Linked DNA regions of Homo sapiens. The protein of the gene in region 1 purifies or fractionates together with the protein of each later gene. This does not show direct contact. Each region holds a gene or a part of one and is shown on either strand. Other genes may lie near its edges.

Region 1 (7,653 bases):
TCGGAAGGCTGAGGCAGGAGAATCACTTGAACCCGGGAGGCGGAGGTTGCAATGAGCCGAGACCGTGTCATTGCACTCCAGCCTGGGCAACAAGAGCAAAACTCCTTCTCAAAAAAAGAGAAGAGCCTACATGTCTAGCAACTCCAATAGTCTCTGACTGATGTCATTATGGACAGACCCCTATTTTAGAGACTAAAAATTGGCTTCCCTAAATACAAGCTAAATAAAAATAATCAAAATAGAGCCAAATTGTTACAGCAAGCCAACATAATCCTCATAATCTGGTGAAAAAATTCTCACTAAAAAGTTCATACTTTTGGCTCAGAATTGAATTTCTAGGAATCTAAAGTAGGAGTCTTTATATACAATGATATTCACTGCAGTTTTAAGTATAACAGCAAAAATAGTAAACTGTCAAAATGATTAATATGAGAATGATTAGATCATGTCTGGCATATCCTCAGAATAGAGTGTTAAGCAGCAACTTAAAAGCATCTTTGTGCGGAGCTCTTGATATGGGGAATGTCTTGTGTTATAATATTCAGTGAAAAAAAGGAGGCATAAAATTGAATATACATGATGTTATCAGTTGTGTTATTTTAAAGTACAGAAAATAATGTGGGAAAAAAAAGTGGCTCACGCCTGTAATCCCAGCACTTTGGGAGGCCGAAGTGGGTGGATTGCTTGAGGTCAGGAGTTTGAGACCAGCCTGGGCAACATGGTGAAACCCCATCTATAATATTAGGTTGGTGCAAAAGTAGTTGTGGTTTTTGCCAAAGTAATGGCAAAATCACAATTACTTTTGCACCAACCTAATAAAAATTCCAAAATTAGCAGGGTGTAGTGGTGCACACCTTCAATCCCAGCTACTCAGGAGGCTAAGGCACAAGAATGGCTTGGACCCGGGAGGCGGAGGTTGCAGTGAGCCGAGATTGTGCCACTGCACTTCAGCCTGGGCGACAGAGTCAGACTCCACCTGGAAACAAACAAAAAAACGAATGCCTCATAGTCATAGTGGTGATTTTTAGGTGATGGAATAACACTACTTTAATCTTTCTAATTTTCTGTATTACTTTTGTAACTGAAAAAAAGTAAACAAACTAGATTAAAGTAAATCAAAACTGATACTTTGATCTCTCTGCTACTTGAGCACTTGTTTCTATCCCAGACACAACCACCCTCTCTCTCTGATTTCATTGCCATATGACCACGTTAGGTTTACTTGAAAGGGACGCCAATCTATGCTATTCATGCTTTTTTCAGCTTTAACTTCTCACTTTATATTTCTGCTTTCTTGTGAAATTATTTTATTCTTTTTTCGTTGTTGTTTTTTAAGAGAGACGCGGGCCAGACATGGTAGCTCATGCCTGTGATCCCAGTACTTTGGGAGGCAGAGACAGGAGGATCACTTGAGCCCAGGAGCGAGACCAGCTGGAGCAACATAGCAAGACCCTGTCTCTACAAAAAAAGAATTAAAGGCCAGGCGTGGTGGCTCATGCCTGTAATCCCAGCACTTTGGGAGGCCGAGGCAGGTGGATCACCTGAGGTCAGGAGTTCGAGACCAGCCTGACCAACATGGTGAAAAACCATCTCTACTAAAAATACAAAAATCAGCTGGGTGTGGTGGTGGGTGCCTATAATCCCAGCTACTCGGGAGGCTGAGGCAGGAGAATCACTTAAACTCGGGAGGCGGAGGTTGCAGTGAGCAAAGATCATGCCATTGCACTCCAGCCTGGGTGACAAGAGTGAAACTCCATCTCAAAAAATAATAAAAAAAAAAAAGAATTAAAAAATTAGCTGGGTATGGTGGTATGTGCTTGTAGTCCCAACTACTTTGGGAAGCTGAAGTAGGAGGATTGCTTGAGACTGGGAGGTCGAGACTGCAGTGAGCTGTGATCGTGCCACTGCACTCTAGCCTAGGTGATAGAACAAGACCCTTTGGGCAACAGAGCAAACAAAAAGAGAGAGAGATGGGGGTCTCACTATGATGCCCAGGCTGGACTCGAACTCCTGGGAGCAAGCAATGTGCCCATCTCAACCTCCCAAGTAGCTGGGATTACAGGCGCACACCAATGCACCCAGCTCCCTTATTCTTTATTCTGAATGTTGTAGGAATAGGCCACCATGTATTGTATGTCAGAGGTTTGCCATCAAAAACAGAACCACTCATTCTCAAGCATGAATATCTAGTCTTCTTAGTAGTTACAGTTTTCTCTGTGGATTAATGAATCAACATTCTAGTATGCATATGTGTCTACATTAAGGATGTCAGGGGGACACAAAGAGGTAACCCATCAGATAGCTGCCAAGTCAATCTGAATATTGCAAGAATTTCAAACTTACTTTAGAGAGATAAATCTTTACTAATTTTTGCATTTAAAGAGAGCAATTTGGTTGCTTGGACATAGTCACCCAAGGCAGCCTTGATGGAAGCAGCCAATTTACTGGAAATCAATTAAACATATGATGAATTTGCTAAAAGCTAGTCTCCAAAATGACCAATTTGCCAAATTGCTAAATATTTATAGTTTTAATCTTGCCTTGGGTTTGCACATTTAGTCCTGTTTGGATGCATGTTGATTCCACGTTGGGTTCATATTTCAGATATGAAACACTTCCTGAATCTTCCATTTTCACACATTAGTGATTACAGTTTCATATAAGTTTTATTTTGCCCTACCACCACTGCTGCTGTCCCCAAGGCTGTTGATGCTCCTGTCTGCCTCTGCTGAGATGAATAAACTTCCAAGATCTGTGTGTGCACATGCAGAAATTTTTCCTTTGACAAAGTCCTAGGAATGTCAAATAATATGTAGATATATAAGACTTGATGCAAATTGCCAGAATCACCAAATATTTGCAATGATGCCAATTTACATTCACATCACCTGGGTATAAGACACCAGTTGAGGCCAGGCGTGGTAGCTCATGCCTGTAATCCCAGCACTTTGGGGGGCCGAGGCGGGCGGATCACCTGAGGTCAGGAGTTTGGGACCAGCCCAGCCAACATGGTGAAACCTCATCTCTACAAAAAACACAAAAATTAGCCAGGTGTGGTGACACTTGCCCGTAATCTCAGCTACTTGGGGGCGCTGAGGCAGGAGAATCACTTGAATTTAGGAGGCGGAGGTTGCAGTGTGTGTCACTGCACTCCAGCCTGGGTGACAGAGTGAGACTCCGTCTCAAAAAATAAAAGAAAAAAGACACCAGTTGAGGATCTTAATTTGAATTCTCTTCCTACCAGCAGTGACTGAGGCTGCTTGATTCCTATGCCTGGCCAATGCCACGTATCATCAATTTTTGTTTTCATCTTTGCCTGCATGGAAGGCTAACAATGATGTCTCATTGCTTTTTTAATGTGCATGTTTTTGTTTATTAATGAAGTTAAACTTTTTTTTAGGCTTAATGACCGTTTTAACTTCTCTGAAATACCTGCTCATGGCTTTTGTCCATTTTTAGTGTTGGGCTTTATATTCATACAGACATTGATTCTATATCATAGTTTTCCCAGCTTGCCTTTCTACTTTGCTTATTGTGATTTTTCAGAAGCAGTTTTCATTTTTCTCTAGTCAAGTTTTAGTATTTTCCCCTTCCTTCAGATTTCTTTCCTCTGCTTTTCACCTAAGAAAGGCCTTCCTCATCCTGGGTTTTGGTGAATATTTATTTATTTGTTTAGTTGTTTTTTGTTTGTTTGTTTTTGTTTTGTTTTGTTTCCCGAAACAGAGTCTCACTCTGTCACCCAGGCTTGAGTGTAGTGGCGTGATCTTGGCTCACTGTAACCTCTGCCACCCAGGTTCAAGCGATTCTCCTGCCTCAGCCTCCCAAGTAGCCGGGATTAGAGATGCTTGCAACCATGTCCGGCTAATTTTTAGTATTTTTAATAGAGACAGGGATTCATTATATGTTAGCCAGGACGGTCTCGAACCCCTGACCTCAGGTGATCTGCCCGCCTCAGGCCCCCAAAGTGCTGGAATTACAGGCAGGAGCCACTATTCCCGGCCAACACATTTAAATACTATGATTTAATACTAAATAATTTGGTTGAGAAATTGGGCCACAAAATATTTAATGGAAGATAGTGTTGAGTAGTGATTAAAACTGTTGCTAGAGATTAAAATAATTTTTTTTTCTTTTTGAGACAGAGTCTCACTCTGTCACCCAGGCTGGAGTGCAGTGGCATGACCTCAGCTCACTGCAACCTCCGCCTCCTGGGTTCAGGTAACTCCCCTGCCTCAGCCTGTCAAATAGCTGTCAAATTACAGGTGTGCATCACAAAGCCCATCTAATTTTTATATTTTTAGTAGAGGTGGGGTTTCACCACGTTGGTCAGATTGGTCTTGAACAGCTGGCCTTAAGTGATCCACCCGCCTCAGCCTCCCAAAGTGCTGGAATTGCAGGCATGAACCACCACGCCCAGCCTAAAATAATTTCTTAATATTAAAAATAGTAAGAGAACAATAAAAACCCCAAATAATTTTTCTAATTACAAAATTTAATCCACATAATTTCTATAGTAGTACTAACTCAGTATTTCACCAATTCAAGATTTGGCAGGACAATAAGGCATATTTAAAAACATTTTAAGTTTTTCTTCCTATTCCTGTTAGATTATTAGATATTACAACTTGAGCCCTTGAATTACTAGTGAATTTAACAGCTGTTGGACAATAAAACTCAAATAAATACATAAATAAATAAAAATTATAGGCCAGGCATGGTGGCTCATGCCTGTAATCCCAGCACTTTGGGAGGCCGAGGCAGGTGGATCACCTGAGGTCGGGAGTTCGAGACCAGCCTGACCAACATGGAGAAACCCCATCTCTACTAAAAATATAAAATTAGCCAGGCGTGGAGGTGGGCAACTGTAATCCCAGCTACTCAGGAGGCTGAGGCAGGAGAATTGCTTGAATCCAGGAGGCGGAGGTTGTGGTGAGCCGAGATCGTGCCACTGCACTCCAGCCTGGGCAACAAGAGCGAAACTCCATCTCAAAAAAAAAAAATAAAGAAAATTATAGCTTGCTTATTTCTTCCCCCACTTAGAAAAGGAAATGGGACCAACCGATAGCCAAATATTTTAAATATGCATGCCAAGCTTTAATGCCAAACGTGTACTTTTTTGTATGTAACTCTCTAAGTTGGTCAATTAAAATTTCAAGATTCTCCCTTAACATTTCTTAAAGATAAATGATTTATTATGCAAATATTTTTAAGCGTTTACTTTGTACTAATTAATTTTTCAGGTGGTGGCTGGCAAGAAATATTTTATTGACTTCGTGGCCAGGGAAACCACATGTTCCAAGGAAAGTAATGAAGAGTTGACCGAAAGCTGTGAGACCAAAAAACTTGGCGTGAGTAGTCATGCACCTGTCTACTTTTTCACTGGAAGCCTATTTGATGTTTTTAGAATCATTTGTTTAAATGTCTCGTGAATAACACTGTCTCTCTTTCGACTTCTGTTTTCATGGATAGCAAAGCCTAGATTGCAACGCTGAAGTTTATGTGGTACCCTGGGAGAAAAAAATTTACCCTACTGTCAACTGTCAACCACTGGGAATGGTATGATTCTAATTACAGTCAGCGTGGGGTCAGTTCTGCTCATTCTGAAAATCCATATTTGGGGGCTGAAAATGAACCATTACTGAAATGAATTGGGGAGCTATCTTTTTTAAATGGGGAGTAACTCTCACACTTCTGTGCTGATCTCTGTTTAATGGCTAGAAAGAAGAGTAACAATCCTCCTGATCACTTCTCACACATTGTCAGTGTCTCAGTGAAGCTTCTATAGACTCTCTCCTAGTGCACTGCAGTCCTGCTGTGGGGGAGCAACATTGGCTATGCCAGGTGTACCTGAGGCCAGATACAGCACTCCACTGCATTCTGCTGACATGCAAGGACCATGTGAAAAATGCATGGCTGGGCGCGGTGGCTCACGCCTGTTATCCCAGCACTTTGGGAGGCTGAAGCAGGCAGATCACCTGAGGTCAGGAGTTTGAGACTAGCCTGGCCAACATGGTGAAACCCTGTCTCTACTGAAAATACAACAATTAGCTGGGTGTGGTGGCGCCTGTAATCCCAGCTACTCAGGGGGCTGAGGCAGGAGAATCCCTTGAACCCAGGAGGTGGAGGTTGCAGTGAGCCGAGATCCTGCCACTGCACTCCAGCCTGGGCAACAAAGAGCGAAACTTTGTCTCAAAAAAAAAAAAAGAAAAGAAAAATTCAGACTCGCAAACCCCACTTCACAGCTACCGAATTTTAACCAGATCCCCAGGGGATTCATATGCATGAATCAAGTTTGAAAAGCATTCGTTGATGTCATCTTTCTTTTTTAAGTCTTAAAAGAACTCTGGGAGGTAGTAACACTTTCCCTATTGTCAAGGATGAGACACTAAAAATTAGAAAGACTCTGAGGTCCTGAGTGAATAATGACATTATCAAATGCTTCCTCTGTCCCAGGCACTATACTGAAGGTTTCACCCACATTTTCGAGTCCTCCTTATAACTCTGTGAGGCAGGTGCTGTTATTATTTCTATTTTACAGAAAGGAAAAGTGAAGCTGATGGCACTTGGATTCAAATCTTGGTCAATTCAGAGTCTACCCTTTCCATCACGATGCTGATTACCAGTAGGGTCTGGCCGGACTCCAATGACCATGTTCTTTGCATCACCAGACACTGCTTCCAATTAACACATTCTCACAGGTAGCAAAAGTGTAGGTAGAATTAATCCACAGATCGACATATTTGAAGCAGGTTACCTCTTTTCCCTCTTTTCTGATTTGGTCTTTTGTCATGTGTAGGTATGTAGATGGTGTAACACAAACATTGTCCTCAGGTTGCATTTCAAGCTTGCGAATATGTCCTAATGTGCTTCAGCACAACAAAGTGATCATGGATACATGCTCCCTATATATTCAGTTCATAAAGCCACTTAGGGCCTTTTAGGATAAAAGCAGTGATGGTGGTAATAACAGTAGTATCAATAATTAAATACTGTGCTCAGTAAAAACATAGGCTCAGAAGCTACCCTAGAGATTAGCTAGTTCAACCATCCAGATGAAGCAAAAACACTCCAGCTTATTTTACAGTTTTTTTTGTTGTTGTTTGGCTGGGTTTTTTTGTTTTTTTTTTGTTGTTGTTGTTGTTTGTTTTTTGTTTTTTTTGACAGAGTCACTGTCGCCTAGGCTGGAGTGCAGTGGCGCCATCTCAGCTCACTGCAACCTCCACGTCCTGGGTTCAAGCAATTCTCCTGCCTCAGCCTCCTGAGTAGCTGGGATTACAGGCATGTGCCACCATGCCCAGCTAATTTTTGTATTTTTAGTAGAGATGGGGTTTCAGCATGTTGGCCAGGCTGGTCTCAAACTCCTGACCTCAAGTGATCTGCTCGCCTTGGTCTCCCAAAGTGCTGAGATTACAGGTGTGAGCCACCATGCCTGGCTATTTTATGGTATTATTAACAACAATAATTAATGTCCACAAATTTTAAGATCAATCAAAAGACAAAAAAAATTATTCATCCTTTCTGGAATGTTAATATAGCATTTAAAATCTGGCAAACACCTCCCCCATTGTAAACTAAGATAACATTGCCAGATCTCAGTGTTTTTTTCTATCATCAATAGCATGATTTTTGCAGTAATACATTCATCTTAATATT
Region 2 (7,653 bases), on another chromosome or scaffold:
ACTGTCATTATTATCACTGGGAGCTTTCCCCAGGTCAGGTACTGCAGGGTACTCGGCACCTCATTTGCTGTTCTGCTGTTACACCCATTTTACAGACACAAACACAGGCTCGGAGCTTAAGCAACTGCTCAAGGGTACAGAACTCTCAGCCTGTCTAATGCCCTGCTCCTGACATTGCTGGACCGCCCTAGTTGGCACTTACTTGGTGTAGATGGCAAGGCAGGAAAAGCCTCATGTGTACATGTCAGACAGGGGCTCTGAGGACCAGGGCTCAAATCCAGCTCCCTCACTGACTACCTGTGCTGACCCTCAGGAGAGCAATGTTTGCTCTGCCCACTGAACAGGTGGGGAGAAGCATTTTTCAAGCAGTGAAACAAGGTGACTTCTTAGCTCTCCAGGCCAGGGTGGGTTTGCCACTGGGTTGCTCCCCTCTGGCACCATCAGGGGTGTGTGACTGCAGGTGGGTCATGGTGCCACACCTACCTCCGGAGGGACCTGCAATAGAGAGACAGGGGAAGTCAGAGATGTGTGTTTGTCCCAGGGCGGGGTCACAGTGCATGCTGGGCAGAGGTCTTGAGTTCTTAGACGGGACTGATGGGATAAGGAGGCAGAAGGCAGGGCCCTGGGGACCCAGATCTGGTCCCTGCACCACAGCAGGGCCCCAGGAGGGAGGGCTCAGGCAGGGTCCTCTTGGTCCTGGGAATGCTTGCCCTAGGACTCCATTCTGAGTCAGAGGCTCCAGGCCAGCCCCCGGGGTGGCCAACTGCAATGTTCCAAAGCCCAGGGACAGGAAAGGGCCACCGCAGGCTGCTGCCAGGGGGTTTGGGTGTGGGCCAAGACTGCGACCAGGGAGGTCCAGAAGTTTCTCTCCCTGTCTTGAGGGCAGTGTGTGAAGCAGGGCAGATACAGGGCAAGAGCAAGGAGTTCTAATCCCAGAGCGACTGGCACAGCCTCACCTTGGCCGACAGGCCCTCCCTATCCCCTATCTTTCCCCTGCCAGCTTCTGCTCACAGCTTCCAAGACGGAGGGCTCAGTACTCCCAGGCATCAGCTGAGCCAGCTCCCTCCTCCAAGAGCAGCAGGCCGCCCTCTAAGCGTGAGGTGAATCCCAGAATCTCCCTTCCCTGAGCCAACCCCCTTCCTCTCTTTCGGCCAGAGGGCCTCAGCAGGTGCCTCCTGGAGGCTGAGATTTCCCAGCCCTCAGGATGGTGGGGGGAGTGGAGGGGAATTTGTGGGGAAGGGCATGGTCCCTGGCGCCCCCTGGTGGAAGCCCGCCTGCACTGCGGGTCGGGGGCGCCAGGTCCTCTGCCTGCTCAGTGAGATCCACCGGTGATCCACCCTCCTGACCTCGTAGACCGCGAAGCCAATAGTCTCCATGTCGCGGCCGAAGCGGCGCTCGCGGCGACGGTGCTTCTGCATAAGGGCGAGCACGAAGCTGCAGCCTGACTCGCGGTCCCCGTAGTCGTCCGGGTCATCCGTCTCATCCAGCCGGATCTTGAACTGAGGGTTCACCCAGAAGGTGGCTGCGGGCAGGTGAGGAGGCGGGGATCAGAGGCAGGGCGGGGCAGAGCCAATTGGCCCCCAAGCCTCCTCAGCACGTCCCTGTGCACGCATTCATTCATTCAACAAATATTATTGAGCACCTGGAACATGCAGGGTGATGGGCAGGCTGGGCCAGGCTCGGTCCATGCCCTCACGGCCTGCATTTGGAAACTAGAGGCTTAAGTCTGAGCAAGTCCGTTAGGTTAGCGAGCAGAGCAACTGCAAAAAAAAGCAAGCAGGAGTAGATCAGAGTAGGGGACCTATGCGCTGAGACCCGAAGGGGCTGCCCTGGGAAGCTGCTGAGAAGCAGAAGCCAGGCGGAGGGCACCCCAGAGCAGAGGTGAGGAAGGGCCCCACGCATCTGCGGACAGGGAGCACTTACGGAGGCTCTAGGAAACACGGAGACCCAGGGAGGCCGCAGAGCTCCCAGGAGCCGGCCAGGGACTAGGGCGTGTGGACTGAAGCAAAGGGTAAGAACCCTCCCACAGCTTGCAGCGAGGAGGCATGTGACTGCATTAGGACTCTAAAAGGTGGCTCGAGTGCTGCGTGGACAACAGCTTAGAAGAAGGCAAGAGAAAAAGCAGGGGTCCGACAGGAGGCCACAGCCAGCCAGCAAGGGAAGGCAGGGGCTTGCATTTCTGGCAGTTGGGTGATTTTGCTGCCTAAAGAACCTTCTTGACTAAAACAACCCAGTGCGGGATAGAACGGTAAACTGCAAAACTTATTTTTAAAGGCACTAATAAGCCACTGCATCCCCTGCCCTCCATTGACAATAATAATAATAATAATAAAGATAATAACAACTTGGGTGAGGATGTGGAGGGATGGGAACCTCACAGGATGCCGGTGGGAATGTAAAATGTTGCAGCTGCTCCGAAGAACATTCTGGCACTTTCTCAAAAGGTTAAACACAGAGCTTCATATGACCCAGAAATTCCACTCCAAGCTCTATACCCAAGAGAAATGAAAACGTGTCCATGCAAAGCCTTGTTCATAAGAGTGTGGCAGGGCGCGGTGGCTCACACCTGTAATCCCAGCGCTTTGGGAGGCCCAGGCAGACGGATCACTTGAGGTCAGGAGTTTTGAGACCAGCCTGGACAATATGGTGAAACTCCACCTCTACTAAAAATACAAAAATTAGCTGGGCATGGTGGCCCATGCCTGTAGTCCCAGCTACTTGGGAGGCTGAGGCAGGAGAATCGCTTAAACCTGGGAGGCGGAGGTTGCAGTGAGCTGAGATCGTGCCACAGCACTCCAGCCTGGGCGACAGAGTAAGATTCAGTTTCAAAAACAAACAACCCACAAAACTAGCTGGGCGTGGTGGCACATGCCTGTAATCCCAGCTACTCAGGAGGCTGAGGTAGGAGAATCGCTTGAACCCAGAGGCAGAGGTAGCAGTGAGCCGAGATCGTGCCACTGCACTCCAGCCTGGGCAAGAGAGCAAGATTCCATTTAAAAAAAAAAAGAGAGAATGTTAATGGCTGCATTATTTATAACAGCTGAGTGGATGAAACTACCCAATTATCCATCAACTGAAGAGTGAATATACAAAATATGGAGCCAAACAATGGGATATTATTTGGCAACAAAGAGGAACAACATTCTGATCCATGCTACAACATGGAGGAACCTTGCAAACATTATGCTAAATGAAAAAGGCCAGCCACAAAGGACCATGTATTATATGATCCTGTTCACATGAAATATCCCAGTAGGCAAATCCATAGAGATAAGAAGTAGATTTGTGGTTGCCAGGGCTGCTGGGAGGGCTGGGGAGTCATGGCTAAGGAGTACCTCATTTGTTTTTGGGATAATGAAATGTTCTAAAATTGATGTGGTGATGGTTGCACAACTCTGTGAATATACTTTAAATAGTATATTTAAATTGTATATTTAATAGTATATTTAAATCGTAATATATGGCCAGGTGCAGTGGCTCACACCTGTAATCCCAGCACTTTGGGAGGCTGAGGCAGCTGGATCACCTAAGGTCAGGAGTTTGAGACCAGCCTGGCCAACGTGGTGAAACCCCGTCTGTACTAAAAATGCAAAAATTAGGTGGCCATGGTGGCAGGTGCCTGTAATCCCAGCTACCTGGAAGGCTGAGGTAGGAGAATTGCGTGAACCCAGGAGACAGAGGTTGCAGTGAGCCGAGATCTGGCCACTGCACTCCAGCCTGGGTGACAGAGCGAGACTCCATCTCAATAAACAAACAAACAAACAAATAAATAAATAAATAAAATCGTAATATACTTCAGTACATTTAAATTGTATATTTAATAGTATATTTAAATTGCAACTTTAAATAGGTGACTTGTATGGTATGTGAATTAAGTATCAATAAAGATATTTTTAAAAAATAGAAAGTAGGAACCCTGCAAGGTAAATAATGCTAAAGGGCTTCTGTAGACCCCTGAACCCCAGGGTATAGAAGCAGATGATAAACATCTACCTGAGGTAGAGAATCCAACAGGAAGTTCCTGCAATTAAACTGGAACCCCCGTCAGGAATGTCAGCAATGAAGTATGAAAGAAAATTAGGCTGGGCGCAGTGGCTCACGCCTGTAATCCCAGCACTGTGGGAGGCCGAGGCGGGTGGATCATTTGAGGTCAGGAGTTTGAGACCAGCCTGGCCAACATGGTAAAACCCATTCTCTACTGAAAAAATACAGAAATTAGCCAGGCATGGTGGTGGGCACCTGTAGTCCCACTTACTCGGGAGGATGAGGCAGGAAAATCGCTTGAACCCGGGAGGTGGAGGTTGCAGTGAGCCAAGATCATGCCACTGCACTCCAGCCTGGGCAACAGACCAAGACCGTGTCTCAAAAAAAAAAAAACAAAAACAAAAGCCGGGCGCGGTGGCTCACGCCTGTAATCCCAGCACTTTGGGAGGCCGAGACGGGCGGATCACGAGGTCAGGAGATCGAGACCATCCTGGCTAACACGGTGAAACCCCGTCTCTACTAAAAATACAAAAAAATTAGCCGGGCGTGGTGGCAGGTGCCTGTAGTCCCAGCTACTCGGGAGGCTGAGGCAGGAGAATGGCATGAACCTGGGAGGCGGAGCTTGCAGTGAGCCGAGATCGCGCCACTGCACTCAAGCCTGGGCGACAGAGCGAGACTCCGTCTCAAAAACAAAAAAAAAGAAAGAAAGAAAATTAAACCTCCCTGGAGGGAAGGAAAAAATAACCTCAAGCCAGGCTTCACATGACCTTTCAGTTTTAATTCACACTGCCTGTGAAACCTTAAGAAGATAATTTAGTCTTAAAAGCGTCCTGCACCAGGCACAGTGGCTGATGGACTGTAATCCCAGTGTTTTGGGAGACCGAGGTGGGAGGACTGCTTGAGCCCAGGAGTTCAAGACCAGCCTGGGCAACATAGGGAGACCCCATCACTACAAAAAGTAAGAAAATGAGCCAGACGACCAGGCGTGGTGGCTCACACCTGTAATCTCAGCACTTTGGGAGGCCAAGATGGGCGGATCATGAGGTCAGGAGATCAAGACCATCCTGGCTAACATGGTGAAACCCCATCTCTACTAAAAACACAAAAAATTACCCGGGCGTGGTGGTGGGCACCTGTAGTCCCAGCTACTGGGGAGGCTGAGGCAGGAGAATGGCACGAACCCGGGAGAAGGAGCTTGCAGTGAGCTGAGATTGCGCCACTGCACTCCAGCCTGGGTGACAGAGCCAGACTCCGTCTCAAAAAAAAAAAAAAAAAAAAAAAAAAAAAAGCCAGGCATGGTGGCATGGATCTGTAGTCCCAGGTAAATCAGGAGGCTGAGGTGGGAGGATCACTTGAGCCCAGGAGTTCAACACCAGCCTAGCCAACCTAGCAAGACCCCATCTCTCCAAAAAATGTAAGAAGTTAGCTGGGCGTGTGGTGTGTGTCTCTATCATAGTCCCAGCTACTTGGGAGGATAGTTTGAGCCCAGAAGGCTGAGGCTGCAGTGAGCTATGATTGCACCACTGCACTCCAACCTGGGTGACAGAATGAGACACTGTCTCAAAAAAAGAACAAGGCGGCCGGGCACGGTGGCTCACACCTGTAATCCCAGCACTTTGGGAGACCAAGGTGGGTGGATCACGAGGTCAGGAGTTCAAGACCAGCCTGGCCAAGATGGTGAAACCCTGTCTCTACTAAAAATACAAAAAATTAGTCAGACATAGTGGCACACGCCTGTAATCCCAGCTACTCAGGAGGCTGAGGCAGAGAATTGCTTAAACCTGGGGAGCAGAGGTTGCAGTGAGCCGAGATCACACCATTGCACTCCAGCCTGGGCGACAGAGTGAGAGTCCATCTCCAAAAAAAAAGAACAAAGCTGGGTATGGTGACTCAGACTCACGCCTGTAATCCTAGCACTTTGGGAGGCTGAAGCAGACAGATCGCATGAGTCCTGGAGCTCAAAACTAGCCTGGGCGAGGTGGTAAAACCCCATCTCTACAAAAATTAGCTGGGCATGGTGGTGTGTGCCTGTAGTCCCAGCTACTGGGAAGGCTGAGGTGGAAGGATTCCTTGAGCCTGGGAGGTCGAGGCTGAAGTGAGCTGAGGTTATGCCATTGCACTCCAGCCGGAGCAAGACTGTGTCTCAAAAAATAAGTAAATAAATAAAAAAGAACGAAAAAGGTGTTCTGGATTGGTGGCATTCCAGGTGACTAGCAGAAACACCCCGGAGCAATTTAACTTTATCTGAGGACTCAAAGAACTCTCTCACGGGGCAGAGATCTCACAAGCAAACAAGGCGTGATAACTGAGCAGCAGCCACAGTGGACAAAAACTGACCACTAAGACTTCAGATATTGACCTTATCAGACACAGAATATAAGACTATGCTTACTATGTTTAAAGAAATAGATGAAAAGTTTGAAAATTTGAGCAAAAATGAACAGATTTGAAAAGATCCATTACATCTTCTAGAAACAAAATTTTTAAAATTGAAATTAAGTTCTTGGAAGAAATAACTAACAGATTTGACAGAGCAAAAAAGAAAATTAGTGAACTGAGAAAGGAGCTGAAGGAACAACCCAGAATGCAATCCAGAGACACTAAGAGATGGGAAATCTAAAAGCAAGGTTAAGAGAAAGAGAGGATTGAGTGAGAAGGTCCAGTTTAGATTTTATTAGAATATACAGAGAGTGGGAAGGAGGTGATATTCTCAAAGATCATGACTACAAATTTTCTAGAATTGTTGAAAGGTATCAATTCATAGCCAGGAAGTTCAATACATTCAAGGCAGAATGAAAAGAAATCCATACCTCCACACATCATGGTGAATCGTATAGTATGAAAGAAAAAAAAAATTAAGATTTTTTCCAGAAGGCAAGGTAGACAGACTCCTGGCTCACATAGCAATGATGGAAGCAGAACAGGACTAATAGTGTCTTTGAGAGGCTGAAAATAATGTCAAGCCAGAATTCTATATCCAGAGAACTGTCAAGAATAAGCACACTATAAAGGCATTTTAGACAAACACTGAGAAAGTTTATAACCAACAGACCCTTGCTAAAAAATAAAAATACAAATACAAAAAGGGCCAGGTGTGGTACTTCATGCCTGTAATCTCAGCACTTTGGGAGGCTGAGGAGGGTGGATCACTTGAGGCCAGGTGTTCGAGACTAGCCTGGTCAACATGGTGAAACCCCATCTCTACTAAAAATACAAAAATTAGCTGGATGTGGTGGTGCACACCTAGAATCCCAGCTACTTGGGAGGCTGAGGAAGAAGAATCGCTTGAACTTGGGAGGCAGAGGTTGCGGTGAGTGGAGATCGCGCCACTGCACTCCAGCCTGGGCGACAGAGCGCGACTCCGTCAACTGCCCCCCAACCCTCCCAAAAAAAATTATCTGGGCATGGTGGCATGTGCCTGTAGTCCTAGCTACTTGAGACACTGAGGTGGGAGGCTCACCTGAGACCAGGAGATCAAGCCTGCTCAAAAAGAAAACAAAACAAAGGAAATACAAAAGGATATGTTTCGGGTGGATGGAAAATGATCTCAGATGAAAGGTCTGAGAATGCTGAACAAAAATACTTTTATTTGTGGGTAATCCAAATAACATGGGCTATCTCAAATCATGATGATGTTTAAATTATGGCAGGAAAAAAAAACTTTAGAAT
Region 3 (7,653 bases), on another chromosome or scaffold:
TTGCCTCCTCAGCTCAACATGTACAATCATGGGAACAAAAAGAATAAGAAAAAATAAATTAGAGTAATAAATGATAAATATGATAAGGAAAGGCAAAATATGTTTACAATTAAATTTTATGAAAAGATCCATAGGAATTAAAATTTTAAATTAAAAAAATAAATTTTACAAAAAGAGAAGACAAGAATCAAAAAATCTACCAGATAGAAACTTTGCAGCAAAAATTCAAATAGTAGCTCAAACCATACTAAACCCTATATCCTCTACAAAACTAAAGATTATTCAAACTTTATAATCTCCAGATTAAACAACTGATCTTAGACTCTCTCTAGACTGACTTTTGAAAAAGTCTTTAGAAAAACTAACTCCTCCCTTTCTTAAAAGCCCATCTTACAAAATATAAACTAGGAAAAGCTATTAAACTTTAACTGACATACCTGGCAATCACTTATTATTTAACAGCATTTTGTGTTTTTTTTTAAACTGTGGTCAAATACACACAATATGAAAATTAACATTTTAACAATTTTTAAGTAGACAATTCAGTAGCATTAACATTAAATTGACGAGCTTAGTACAATTTGTGAGCTTGTACAATACTGCACATTTCCAGAACTTTTTCCTCATCTCAAACAGAAACTCCGTGCCCATTAAACAATACTCCCCATTTCCCAATGCCCTGAGCTCTGGTAACCTCTATTCCACTTTCCCTATGAAAGGGCCTGTGCTAGGTATCTCATGTAAGTGAAACTGTACATTTGTCCTTTTATATCTATTTTATTTCACTTAACATAATGTTTTCAAGGTTCATCCATGTTATGACATGTATCAGAATTTTATCCCTTTTTAAAGCTAAACAATATTCCACTGTTAGCATATACCACATTTGTTTATCCATTCATCTGTCAATGGACATGGGTTGTTTCTACCTTTTGGCTATCATAAATAATGCTGCTGAAAACACTGGTGTACAAGTATCTGTGAATCCCTGTTCTCAATTCAATTGTGCATATACCTAGAACTGGAACTGCTGGATCATAATGGTAATTCTAAGTATAACTTTTCTTTCAAGAGATGGGGTCTCACTCTGTCACCCAAACTGCAATGCAAGGCATGATTCTAGCTCGCAGCAGCCTAGAACTCCTGGGTTCACATGACCCCCCTGCCTCAGTCTCCTGAACAGCTTGGGAGTACAGGCATGCACCACCATGCCTGGCTACACGTGTAACTTTTTGAGAAATCGCCAAACTTTTCCACAGCAGCTATGTTACATTCCCATCAGCAATGCACAGGAGTTCCAATTTCTGGACATCCTCACCAACATTTGTTATGTTTCTTTAATAACAGCCAACCTAGTAAAGTGGTATCTCATTGTGGTTGTAATCTGCATTTGCCTAATGATTAGCGAAGCTGAGCATCTTTTCATGTGCTTACTGACCATGTGTGCATCTTTAGAAAAATGTCCATTTAAGTCCTTCTGCCCAATTTTTTAATTGGGTAGTTTGTTTTATTGTTGAGTTGTGGGAGATTTTAATGGTTAAGAAATGAAAATTCAGGAAGAAAACCATGCATGAGAGCTGTGCTCCAACCTGAAATGTCCAAAATCTACAATGCACCGATTACAGTCTCAACTTCCTTTGATGAAATCCCATCCTCTCAGCCTCTAAAAGTAAATATTTTAACATCTCTTTTATCCCTGATATCTAAGAGATCACTAACCCCTTCCACATCTCCCTCTGCTTTATCACCCCTTCTTTGCCAAGGCACCAATCTTTTACCTGAACAGTCACAAAATAGTGCCCCTGACAACAGTCTCCCTCCTCTCCAGTCAATCCTATATATATATTGCTAACAAAGCAATCTCTTCTCAAAACACAAAATTGATCGCTTCCATTTTAAAATCCTTGGCAGGCTCCCTTCAGCACACAGTTTAAAATCCAAATTCCTTGGTTTATATACAAGGCCCTTTGGTCTGTATACTGCCAGCATCCACTTGCATCTCTCCACACCCACACTTCGTGTACAGCCATTCTGAAGTTTAAAAAGTCATCTTTTTCCATAATTCTTTTTGCTGTGATTTCCTCTGCCTAGAATGCCCTTCTGCCACCATTTTATAACACAAATAGCATCTTCTTTGAAAAACCCTCCCTTTGGCACTCAGTCCTTTGGGCTCTCATCACTCTGTGGACAGGTAGTTATTATACAGCATTCAGAATACAGCATTTCAGGTGATCTGTTTGTTCTCCTTTCTAGGCTATGAGTCCTTCAATGGCAGAAACTACATTCACCTTTGTAGCCCCAGCATAATGGCTGAAACAGAGTGAGACTAAATACTTGCAGAAGACCAGGCACAGTGGCTCACGCCTGTAATCTCAACACTTTAGGAGGCCAAGCCAGGAGGATCACTAGAGCCCAGGGGTTCAAGACCAGCCTGGACAACATAGTGAGACCCCCATCTCTATTAAAAAACAAAAAGAATAAATGAAAAAATAAAAAGAACAACCAAAAAAAAAATACTTGCAGGATAGGTAAAACAATGAACAGATAAAATCTGAGTCACATATACCTGATATTATTTCATAAACAAAATAGAAAATTATCTTTCTCCATATTAGCAAGAAGATTAAGTAACAATATATTTTCCAGATCAAAAGACTGAAATTCCAAATCTTACAATTACACTTACAAGTGATCTTAAGATAAAGGAGATAATATATCTAACTGCACTTCCATAGAATCTAGTAAATAGGCAACTGTTCTTGGAGAAATTAAGATGAAGATATAGAAGCAAAGAACTACTTGGATATCATCAAATGCACTTTTCACATCTATACTAACTATATGAATTATATGGGAAAAAATTTACCATCAAAAAGATCACTGGCTTCAACACTCCAGGACACAAATGCTTTCACATATGCCCTCAAATGTTGGAATAATGATTCAGTTTATCCTTTCCAATAAATAGAATACAGTACTCATCAGGAAATAGTTAACGGTAGGCGGGAGGAGTGGGAGGAAGCAGTATCCAGATACAAAGATTTCAGCATTTACAAAAATGAAACTTAACATTAGTCAAAGCCTCCAAAACCTCGTCAACCCTAATTCAACTACAATAAATGCATTAGTTCTTCCTCCAACTTTTTGTTATAAAAATTTTCAGTAAGAAAAGTTGAAATAATGCAGCAAACATATTTCACCTATATCCAACAATCATGAAAATTTTGCCATATTTGTTTGTGTGTGTGCATTTGTGTACATATGGGATTTTCGGAATGGGAATGCTGACTGTTTAAAAATAAATTGCACACACATCATGACATTTCACCCCTAAATACTTCACCATGCCTTTTCTAAAAATAAAGATGTTCTCCTATAAAACCATAAAATCATCGTCCCTGAGAAAAAAATAATACTTCTCTAACATCAGCTACTGGCCAGTAATTTTCAACTTTCCCAAATTTTCCCCAAAAATATCTTTTTAGCTAGAAAACCAGGACTCAATCAAAGTTCATTTAACAAGGATCAAAAAATACTGCATTTGGTGATGTCTCTTTAGTCTCTTTCAATGTAGAACAGTCCCCACCTTTTTTTCTTTCTCCGTGACTTTTTTAAAGAAACCAGAATGTAGACTATAAACTTTTTATAATGGAAAATTTCAAATAAATACAAAGTAAACAGAATAGGATAATGAATCCCCATCAGCCAGTTTTAATAATTATCAAGCTTGGCTGGGCATGATGGCTCACGCCTGTAATCCCAGCACTTTGGGAGGCCGAGGTGGGTGGGTAGATCACAAGGTCAGGAGATCGAGACCATCCTGGCTAACACAGTGAAACCCCAGCTCTACTAAAAATATAAAAACAAAATTAGCCGGGTGTGGTGGCGGGCAACTGCAGTCCCAGCTACTCGGGAGGGTGAGGCGGGAGAATGGCATGAACCTGGGAGGCAGAGCTTGCAGTGAGCTGAGATCATGCCACTGCACTCCAGCCTGGGTGACAGAGCAAGACTCCATCTCAAAAAACAAATAAATAAATAAACAATAATAATAATAATAAAGCTTTAGCCATTCCTAGCTATCTATTTCCTTATCTCATGGTATTTTAAAATATAATTCTCTATTGCCTATATTTCCTATAAATAGGAAGTTAGGTCTAAATATTCATATTTTTGGGAAGAAAACTTAGATGACATCATGTACTTCATTCTGTATTATAGCTAGAAGCACATAATACTCCTTCATGTCACTACTAATTATGCTAAACTCAATCACTTGATTGAGGTGGAGACTGACAAATAACTCCAAAGTAGAGGTACATTTGTTCCTTCACATTTACCAGGTAATCCACAGGGTGATGTGTTGGTGCCATGGTAATATTCTTTCAACCAACAGTGTTAGTATCCATTTACAATCCTTGTTGGAATCAATTATTGCACTGGAGGTTACAAAATGGTGATATTCTAATTCTACAATTCCTTTTACACTTATTAGCTAGCATTCTTCTCTAAGTACAAGTTTTCCTTCATCAAATGGAGATGAACTGCATGTCTTCCTGAAAAAATATGGCAAATGCTTAATTCTTTCCCTTTCATTATCAACTTTCAGAACAGTTAGTTATAACAGCCAACTGCAATGGCTGCAAAGCAGATTTTTTCCTTTCTCTCTACCATTATGAATCCCACGATTTTTATTTATTCAAATCTTTGCAATCAATTATAGTAATCATGTGTTAAAATATTTCTGTACTCTTCATGTTTTATAGGTTTTTGCTGGCAATAACAAATTGAATTACATAAGGACAGAGTGTTTAAAGATTACCATTAAAGTGACAAAGAAGAGTGTAAAAAAAGTGATGATATAAAAATAAAATTAAATTTTTATTTTCCTGCCATTATCTTCACATTATATTATGTCATGTTACAACGTACACCCAGCTGCTGAGATCATTAGGCTGGTTTTATCATTTCTGTTAAATTTTAAAACAAAACTTTTTTTTAATTGCATTAAATAGTGAATCAAATGCTAAAATTCAAATCAACTCACCTGCTGAACAGGACTGTCAACTGTAAATGCTTTATAAACTGCCAATGCCTGGCTTTTACTTCCTTTGCTCCATATCACCATATTTCCAGCAACATAGAGTTCCTCATCATAGTCCACATCTTCTCCAATTTCACTTACTCCTTTCCTTAACTGCCAGCTTTCCTTAAAAATTAACACATGTAAAACATATTCAAGCACTCTTTTTTTGTTCTTCAAAAATCTGGAACAAAATTTATTTGCCCATGGAGTAAGACTCAATTCAAACACAACTCCTACAAAGTTTGGTACACTGATTAACGGAGGATGTGGATATATGCATTACACTACAGAATTACATGAAGAATTTACTCAATAATTCTCTATATTGAATGTTTTATATTATTCCTCTATATTACTCTGCCAAAAACAAAAACGAACAAAAAGTACACCTTCTCTATAGTTCCAAAAGTCAAATCACATGCTTGGGAGACTAAAAGGACATATTAAGTATATGAGGTAGGGTAGGGAAAGGACAGTGAGGTGCACGTGGGAATCACTTGGGGAGTTCACACACAAATGCAGACTTCCTGCTTCGCAATCACATATATATTCACCTTCTTTTCCTTTGTCCCACCCACCAAAATGAATGGAAGAAAGAGAAGTTTCCATTTGTAACTACATAGGCTTTCCCTCCCCGAGATTTTAGTATCCCAAAGGGATATGACAATGGAATAAGGCAGGAGGGATTCATTTTCTGACACACACTTAACATCTCATTCCTCTACTTAAGAACTATTACTCGCCGGGTGTGGTGGCTCACGCCTGTAATCCCAGCACTTTGGGAAGCCGTGGCAGGTGGATCACCTGAGGTCTGGAGTTTGAGACTAGCCTGACCAACATGGAGAAATCCCGCCTCTACTAAAAAAATACAAAATTAGCTGGGCGTGGTGGCACATGCCTGTAATCTCAGCTACTCGGGAGGCTGAGGCAGGAGAATCACTTGAATCCAGGAGGCAGAGGTTGCGGTGAGCTGAGATTGTGCCATTGCACTCCAGCCTGGGCAACAAAAGTGAAACTCCGTCTCAGGAAAAAAAAAAAGCTATTACTCTACCTACTTTTGTGGCATTTCTTCTCTCCTTTAGAAACATGTAAATCTTCTGCAGCAGGGACTACTTCTAATCTCTACCATTTAATCATTAGATAACATGAAATCTGGTCCCCACATATTAAGTGAAAAGAAAAAGGTTTAAAATGGACAACAATCATACTACTGAACCTGACTCACATTATAACACCACAAGTTGGCCGGGCACAGTGGCTCACGCCTGTAAACGCAGCACTTTGGGAGGCCGAGGCGGGTGGATCACCTGAGGTCCGGAGTTCAAGATCAGCCTGACCAACATGGAGAAACCCCATCACTACTAAAAATACAAAATTAGTAGGGGTGGTGGTGCATGCCTGTAATCCCAGCTACTCGGGAGGCTGAAGCAGGAGAATCACTTGAACCCGGGAGGCAGAGGTTGCGGTGAGCCAAGATCGCACCAGTGCACTCCAGCCCGGGCAAAAAGAGCAAAACTTCATCTCAAACAAAAAAATTGAAAAATAAAAAATAAATAAAACCACAAGTTATAGAGGGTATCTAAATAAGTCGCTATGACAATGTAATAAAGTCATTATTTTCAACATTTATTGAAATTACCACACCTTAACTCTACTCTAGAAGTGGCATCACACCGATCTCTCAGTTGCATCTTAGTAGCCTTAAATTACAAGTAGATTATATCACTCTACATTTCAAAAACACAATGGGAAACTCAATGGAACCTTCTGTTTCTCGTGGATTGTAACCTCCTGAAGGGATCCCACCAAGCCAGCAGCACCATCAGAAGACCATAATTCAGAAGCTGGCTGCAGCTGGCGAAGTTGAAGGTTCAAAGCATTAGGGTGGTGCTTGCAGTGGTCTCGACCAAAAGGAACAAATTCCTGCAAATCCCTTGCTGCAATCATCGTTGTCCTTTCTTCATAGAAGTTCGACATGGGTTCCAAATATCAACATTATTTCTGTATGAATTCAAACACATTCTGGTCAGCTTCCAGACTCAAAACTAGAATAAAAATACCATAAACACACAAGTCATTAATCCTTACATGGGTGTCAAGTAATTATATCAGACTGGTAAGTATATAAGTTGGTCATAACATAAAAGGGCATTCTAGATCTGATTCAGACAGTTGCAATTATCACATTTTAGTCACAGACTGACAGTTACCACTATAGGAAACCACTGAGATGCAACAAGTACTTATGTCCCGCACCACCTATCCCGTGTTTCCCACTACTATACGCTAATTTTTCCATACTTTATATATGAAGTATTTAGACAAGTTGTATTCTATGGTCCCATAACTACATGGCTTTTCAACATTTAAGGTCATTTCTGGTTAGATGCCAGAACCTCATTTGAAAAGTACATCTAAGGGATCATTGTCATATTGGAATAAAACAATAAAAAACCACACATTACTCTAATTCATCAGAGGTTGAACTGCTTTCAGCTGACCAATCTACAAAAGACATAGGTTTTCAAATGTCTTAAGTAGCTGTGACACCCCCAATCCCACCTAAATAT
Region 4 (7,495 bases), on another chromosome or scaffold:
AAATAAAATGCTATTTGTTGATTTGAAAATGAAAAATTAGTTGACATTTCTTCAATGAGAACCCCTAGGTCAATCTGTCCATAAAAAATTTTTCACAATGGATAAAGTTCTATTATATGTAGAATGGTTTGCTTATTCTCCATGTTATGTAAAAGCAAGAACAGCTGTGTGTTAACCATCTAATGGTACTTATATGGTAACCATTAGCTGTTGACCATCTCACCAGAGAACTGTGCAAAGGCTAATAATTTTTTTTTTTTTTTGAGATGGAGTCTCGCTCTGCGGCCCAGGCTGGAGTGTAGTGGTGCGATCTTGGCTCACTGCAAGCTCCGCCTCCCGGGTTCACGTCATTCTCCTGCCTCAGTCTCCTGAGTAGCTGGGACTACGGGCACCCGCCACCAGGCCGGGCTAATTTTTTTGTATTTTTAGTAGAGACGGGGTTTCACTGTGTTAGCCAGGATTGTCTTGATCTCCTGACCTCGTGATCCGCCTGTCTCGGCCTCCCAAACTGCTGGGATTACAGGTGATCCACCACGCCTGGCCAAAGGCTAATAATTTATAATGACAATACTCACGGTTTGCAGATGTAGATTCTACCATATAAAATGTGAATTCTGAAAAAAGTATCTGTTATCTCTGAAAGTGTTCCACTTTCCAAAAGCAGAGCACGAATGACAAGATAAGGAGCTCCATTTACCACTGCTACATATGGATAGGATTCCTCAGAGTCCAGGCCTCCGTTCTCCTTGACATACTGGAAGGCCCTAGCCATGAAGCCACCATTGCAGCCCTGATTGCCTTGAGGACGCGAACAGTCCACCAGATTCTGCTCGCTCAGTGAGACAAGTTTCCCAGTTTTCCGGAACATCTGTCCTTCAAGAGCACCAGTCGCACTAAAAGCCCAACAAGAACCACACTGTTTCTAAAAAGGGAGAAAAAAAAAGCTGTAAATTTACAAGACCAATACAAATACAGTACCCCATAATTGAATTACCTTAATATTCTTTAAAAAAAAAAAAAACCCATCGCCACACTTTGGGAGGCCGAGGCGGGCAGATCACTTGAGGAGAGGAGTTTGAAATCCGCCTGGCCAACATGGTGAAACCCTGTCGCTACTAAAAATACACAAAAATTAGCTGGGCATGGTGGTGAGCACTTGCAATCCCAGCTACTCGGGAGGTGGAGGCAGGAGAATCTCTTGAACCCAGGAGGCAGAGGTTGCAGTGAGACGAGATCACGCCATTGCAATCCAGCCTGGGCAACAAGAGCTAAACTCCGTCTCAAACAAGCAAACAAAAAAAACACCAAAAACCAAAAATACAAAAAACCCATCACCATATGTTGTGCCACCATCTACCACAGCAATGACACCAATTCCTTCTTGGCTTTCCTGTGGAGACAGGGTCTGAATCTGACGCTGTCTCACCTGATTCTTCACTGGCGTCACGTAGCCTTTCTTTCTCCAATCCACAGATTTGGGAAGATCAAGAAACAGAGGCTCACGGAACACTTTCCCCTTCCTGAATTTCTGGTTTCGAAAGCAACCCATCATCTGCCTGAATTCTTCATTGGTCTTCAAGGAGAAGTAAATAAAATGTTAAAAGCAAGACTATTTTGGTGAAGAACTGAGAAGCAGCACAGAGTTCAGCAATCCTTGCCACACTCACCATGTCACCAAAAGCATTCATGGCCATTGTGAAGCCATGTTTCCCTTGGCTGTATTCCCCATTGTGCAGTTCAATCATTTTCATATTCTTTTCCCACACTGCTCTCCTCCATCCTTCTTCATTCTAGAGGCAAACATATAGCTGGTGGACTTTATGTCTACTTACCCAACCCATGTTCACCAAGCCGATTTGCGGGCAGAAATGGAAGAGAAACCATGGCCAGGGATGGGTTGATACTTCTCTGGGAGCTGTTCTCCAAGCCAAGACACAATGGAGATATATGCCCATATTGCACCTATAATGGGTGCTGTTAGGTTATTGCCTGGTAAGGTCTGGTGTCTAGAAGCTACTCTCTGGCTATCAACTCCCAACAGCGAGGACCATTCTCTCCAGAGTCCCTCTGGACAGTTTCAGATGTTACCAACCGCGCCATATAATCTTCTGTGTGTTGCCTTCCACTGGTACCACTTTGTATCCAAATTTTGGTCAAATTTTGGAACAGCGGAGGCTATTCCCAAGCAAAAGGCAGCCAGGACGAGCGAAAGATTCATGTTTCAAAACCTAGAAAGAGAAAAGAAATGAGTATCTGATTAGACCAATCCTAAAAAGCCATCTTACAGCCCCCGTGGAATAGAAATATTTCAATTATTCTCCCTAGCATTTCCCCAAGGACTGTGGAAGAGGCTGAAACAGGCCAAGTGGAGGTATTTGATGGGCCCACCAAAATTAAAAGCAGCCTGCAGAGTTGGAGGCGTTGAAACAGCATATGCGATAATTTAGGGTATGAGAAGGGTGTGAAAGATACCTGACGGGTGAGAAGCTTAAGGCAACAACTAGAAAACTAGGAAAGAGTTGGTCCAGGTTTTGCACCAATTGTACTGAGGTCATCCAGGCAAAACCTCACTAATGAAGACGTACCATCCCAAGTAGATGCAAGCGGATCCCCAAGGAACACCACCTCACACCTTCTTGGCTGATACACAGCAGGAGATGAGCTATGTCTTCCAACCTCTCCTTTTGGAATAAAACCTTTCGGGAATCCCTTTCCAGGAGACACTGGGAAGGAGAGCACCCACTATTCCCGCCGTCCCACACTTGGGTCTGTGCTACTCGCTCCCCTAAACCGGGGCAGGGTCACAAGGCCGCGCCGCTGGAAGCCAGGGGCCCCAGGGCCAGGGCCCGGACCGAGGCAGGCAGCTCCCGGAGCTCCGGGCGGGCCAGGACCGGGGCCGCACCGCCTGCTCTCGCCCTCTGCACGCGCCGCCGCGCCCCGAGAATGTTTGCGGCGGTGCAGGGAGCGGGGGCTCCGCGGCCAGGCTGGGGGCATGAAGCCGCCCGGTCCGGTCCGGCTTCAGCCCACAGGATGACTGACCTGCCCCGCCCGGGCCCTCCCAGTGGTGCCGGCGCCTCCCTGGGGTCTCCAACCGCCCTCCCCCGTTCCCCACCTCGAGGCTGGCAGAGCTCCGGGCAGAAGCTCTCACTCCCAGAAGCGCCCGCCTCCTCTCAGTGTCCCTAAAGGGGGGTTCCCTCCTCCAGTCCCCCTTCGCCCTGTCCCTCGGTCTGGTCGGGGGCGCTCACCAGCAGCCGTCGCAGCTGCGCAGGCACCCTCAGCAAACAAGCCTCTGAGATTACAGACGTCCGCGGTCTGGTGCAGGTTCGCCCGCCTCGGGATTTAAGTTTCCAGGCGGCCTTCCCCGCCCCCACCGCCTTCCCGCGCTGCGATTGGCTGTGCCGGCCACTGGGCGGGGCCCCGGGCGCTTAGAGCCCGCGCGTGACGCAGCCCAGTCCCAACCCGTCTCAGGTCTGGGCGCGCCTACCTCAATACACCCTGGCTGCGGGAAGCTGGGCCGGGCGCCCGGGGGCTGCGCGGAGGAGGGGGAGGCGCCTCCCTCAAGGGCTCAGATCTACTGACTATCCCGACTTACTGCGCTGAGCGGGTGGTTTACAGCGAGCTCTGTGTGGTATTTCAGTCCCTACTTTAACTTAGTCCTAGAGTTTTTGGTGAAAATCTGCAGGGCCGGGAGCCAGGGTACTCTCGTTCAGTGGCTCCTGTTTAGTCCACGGCAAAGGTGGGACGGAGTGGAAGAACGCACAGCCCCCAGCAGAAGCATTACCTTCCACTTAAGGGTGGGTGCATCAGGGCTTTAGAAGAATCTGGTAAGGAAAGGCACTCCCAAAACACGGGATGGATGGTCGAGACCGGACACCAGGAGGGACGGGACTAGCTGATAGGGTGTCCAGAGACCGCGGAGCGTTTTGTGGTGCGTCCTTCCCAGTCTGTTGCATTCAGGAATTCTTCCTTCTCCCATGTCTTTCAATACCAAAAAAAAAAAAAAAAAAAAAAAAAAGAGTTACAGAAATATTTGGTTAATAAAAAAGAGAAAAGCGTTGAGAATGGTGAAATAAATTGCTTTAAAAATTTTTCTTTTGTAGAAATGGAGTTTGGCTAAGTTTCCTTAGGCTGCTCTTGAATTCCTGGCCTCAAGCGATCCTCCCCTCTCAGCCTCCCAAAAGTGGTGGGATTACAGGCGTGAGCCACTACGCCCAGTCTGAGAGTGGTGGAAATTGCTTTTACTTACCTACTCTCTGCTTATGGGTTACAACGTCTCTTCCTCAGTATTCAAAGTGTGCTTCTTTTGAGATTTAATAAATTTACTTTAAAAATGTTTAATACCGGCCGGGCGCGGTGGCTTACACCTGTAATCCCAGCACTTTGGGAGGCCGAGGCGGGCGGATCACGAGGTCATGATATCGAGACCATCCTGGCCAACATGGTGAAACCCTGTCTCTACTAAAAATGCAAAAATTAGCTGGGCGTGGTGGCGGGCGCCTGTAGTCCCAGCTACTCAGGAGGCTGAGGCAGGAGAATTGCTTGAACCCGAGAGGCGGAGGTTGCAGTGAGCTGAGATCGTGCCACTGCACTCCAGACTGGTGACAGAGCGAAACTCTGTCTCAAAAAATAAAAATAAAAATAAAAATATATAATATCAGGGTTGAGGTGATGCAGTTTGAGGAACTGCTCTTTATGGAGAAATATATGTAGCTAAAGATTTAAGGAAATCATTAATAATTCAGAAACGTTTCTAATTCTTTTTAAAGTTATATAAAAAAATCCATTATAAAAAATATGTTTTAGAAAATAAACGTCCCTTGTGCCCTCTCCATAACCCTTTTCTAGGCATATCTTTTTTTGTTTTTACAAAAATGAAGTTATAATGCATATTGATTAATAAACTCTTAAAGATTAAATTGAATAATATCCACAGTTTTTACTTGTTAATTTGAAAATTTGTGAAATCAAGTTTAGCCTAAAGCTGCCTCCCCATGTGATTTAAGTTTGGCCTAAAGGTTTCTCTGTACATAGCGAATTGTAATCTAAATGGAGGTGTAAACAGACTGTAGCCTGCTCTTGTGCCTATCCCCGAATTTCTGTAAATCAAAGAGGTTCAGTTGTTCAAACCATGTTCAAATAAGGCAAACATGGAGCTGTATCCAATCCTGCAGTTTCTGTGCCTCACTTGCCCTTTTCTGTCTATAAATCTTCCCCCATGTGGCTGCACTGGAGTCTCTCTGAGCCTACTCTGGCACTGGAGGCTGCCAGATTCACGAATTGTTTTTTGCTCAATTAAATTCTCTTAAATTTAATTTGGCTATGGATTTTCTTTTAACAAATTAAAAACAATTAAACTGACAACTTTTCAGAAGCACCATCAGGCAAATACATCTTTTTAAAAATCAATTTATTAATAATTATATGTCCTTCCTTTAAATAAATAGCAGCTTTTCCCTCTCAAATACAACTAGGGGCCAAAGCTGTCAGGTGGTTATATAAAAAATACAAAAGTATATTGTATTGCAGGCCAAGGTAGGTGGATCTCCTGAGCCTGGGAGTTTGAGACCAGCCTGGGCAACATGGCGAAATCACACCTCTACCAAAAATACAAAACAAACAAACAAAAATTAGCCAGGCATGGTGATGCATGCCTGTAGTCCCAACTACTTGGGAGACTGAGGTTGTAGTGAGCGGAGCAGAGCATGCGCCACTGCACTCCAACCTGGGTGACAGAGCGAGATGCCGTCCCAAAAAAAAAAAAAAAAAAAAAAAAGCATCTTGTACTTGTACTGCAAATTTGCCGTCTCAAAAAAAAAAAAAAAGCATCTTGTACTGCAAATAGCTGTTTTTTTTCTTTTTTAAAAATTAATCATTGTGTTGAACACAATCATCATTCACATGTGGAAATAAATGAAGACCACCACCTAAGAACAAACAGAGGCCATATATTCAGAACTTGCTATAACAAAGGAGATAATTCAAAGACGAGGGAGAAGAAAAGCTTTAGGGGAAAAAGGGGGCAACTTCAGCTATGTCCTCTTTGCAGAGTGTCGTCATGGAGAAGCTGAAGGAGGGATAACTAGAGATGGAGCGTCTTATGTGATTTGTTTGTGGAGTATATTTGGTTTTTCTGGTTTGTCCTGGGTTGGAAGCAGAGGCAAAAATGAGGAAGCTGTCAGCCACTGAGTAAGTCCTGACTGTTCTGAGTTGGTCTCTGCAGATATTATGCTTCATTTCTTCTGTGGGTCAGAGTTCTATTGCCATATACTATGGCCATTGTCTATTTGTTTACTCAGTCTATCACAAGAAAGCTAAGTTATTCTAACACGTGGGTTTTACAGTTGCCCTTGGGCCACAGCTCCCTAAGATTGTAGGGTGGAGAAACCTGCCAGGCCATTAAGATCTGTGCCTTAAGCAATAGCCTGACAGCAGATGAGTGGCAGGTGCTGCCCTGAAGAATGGCATCCCCTTTGTTTTTTGGAATGTGAGACAAAAGTAGTGGAGAAAACATAGACCCTTTTCAAACCAAGTGTGCCCCAAATCTAAAATTATACCAGAAATATGTAAATGCAGAAGAAATATGGGAGAAAGCCAATAAGCAAGAGGGTGGAAGACGTTATTGCTCCAACTTAGGACACCTATTTATATCTATTTATACACATCTGTAAAAAAATGCATTACAGAAATGTGGTATTACTAGCCAGGACAGTTGTATTTAAATATTTGTTTCTTTCCCTACTCTTCTATTCCTATTTCTTTGCAAAATAATTTTGATGAGTGATAATTTTTAGAACAGTCACATGTTAGTGAAGCAACCAAGCCTTGGTTATGCCTTTAATAAAATGGAGTTGGCAGAACTTCCTGATTCCTATTTAAAACGCAGTGCCTGTGAAAGTATATTCTCACGTGCATCTGTGTAGCTTTCTTTTACTCACTATTAAAAGAGGATATAGGCCAGCCATGGTGGCTCACGTCTGTAATCCTAGCACTTTGGGAGGCTGAAGTGGGTGGATTACTTGAGGTCAGGAGTTTGAAACAAGCCTGGCCAACATAGTGAAACCCTGTCTCTACTAAAAATACAAAAAAAGTTAGGCAGGTGTGGTGGTGCATGCCTGTAGTCCCAGCTACTTGGGAGGCTGAGGCAGGAGAATCGCGGAGAGGTGGAGGTTGCAGTGAGCCGAGATTGCGCCATTGCACTCTAGCCTGGGCAACAGAGTGAGACTCTGTCTCAAAAATAAATAAATAAATAAAAGAGGATGTGATTCTTTACCCAGTCTCCGGAAATTTTAAACCATAGGGGAACTGGCAAACTTAGTGTGGTGGCATTCAAGACCCTGACATCACTTAACACCTCTCCCCAGTATAATAACCCCCTCCGATTTGTTTAAATTCACTGAGCCAAGAATTACTCTTAAGAAGCATTATCCAGCAAACTGTCCACTTGCAAAATGGTTTGTCACCATTGATAATCGTATAGCAAACAGCCTGTTTATGA

Evidence for each region.
Region 2: the proteins of KNG1 (region 1) and CAPN1 purify together in Homo sapiens (affinity purification with mass spectrometry; 4 studies listed by BioGRID and IntAct, with this or other methods). This does not show direct contact.
Region 3: the proteins of KNG1 (region 1) and ANAPC1 purify together in Homo sapiens (affinity purification with mass spectrometry; 4 studies listed by BioGRID and IntAct, with this or other methods). This does not show direct contact.
Region 4: the proteins of KNG1 (region 1) and CTSV purify together in Homo sapiens (affinity purification with mass spectrometry; 4 studies listed by BioGRID and IntAct, with this or other methods). This does not show direct contact.

What each region holds. Positions count from the first base shown.
Region 1 is NC_000003.12:186,733,859-186,741,511, forward strand, and holds part of KNG1 (kininogen-1 isoform 1 precursor), read left to right. Parts: intron 1-5,240; coding exon 5,241-5,348; intron 5,349-5,469; coding exon 5,470-5,556; intron 5,557-7,653. UniProt on the Homo sapiens protein: Kininogens are inhibitors of thiol proteases.
Region 2 is NC_000011.10:65,198,552-65,206,204, reverse strand, and holds part of CAPN1 (calpain-1 catalytic subunit), read right to left. Parts: intron 1,523-7,653; coding exon 1,347-1,522; intron 496-1,346; coding exon 484-495; intron 1-483. UniProt on the Homo sapiens protein: Calcium-regulated non-lysosomal thiol-protease which catalyzes limited proteolysis of substrates involved in cytoskeletal remodeling and signal transduction. Proteolytically cleaves CTBP1 at 'Asn-375', 'Gly-387' and 'His-409'.
Region 3 is NC_000002.12:111,873,766-111,881,418, forward strand, and holds part of ANAPC1 (anaphase-promoting complex subunit 1), read right to left. Parts: intron 7,085-7,653; 5' UTR 7,061-7,084; coding exon 6,848-7,060; exon of another isoform or gene 6,728-6,847; intron 5,207-6,727; coding exon 5,045-5,206; intron 1-5,044. UniProt on the Homo sapiens protein: Component of the anaphase promoting complex/cyclosome (APC/C), a cell cycle-regulated E3 ubiquitin ligase that controls progression through mitosis and the G1 phase of the cell cycle.
Region 4 is NC_000009.12:97,035,826-97,043,320, forward strand, and holds the start of CTSV (cathepsin L2 preproprotein), read right to left. Parts: upstream 3,318-7,495; 5' UTR 3,246-3,317; intron 2,229-3,245; 5' UTR 2,219-2,228; coding exon 2,093-2,218; intron 1,791-2,092; coding exon 1,668-1,790; intron 1,574-1,667; coding exon 1,427-1,573; intron 923-1,426; coding exon 698-922; intron 1-697. UniProt on the Homo sapiens protein: Cysteine protease. May have an important role in corneal physiology.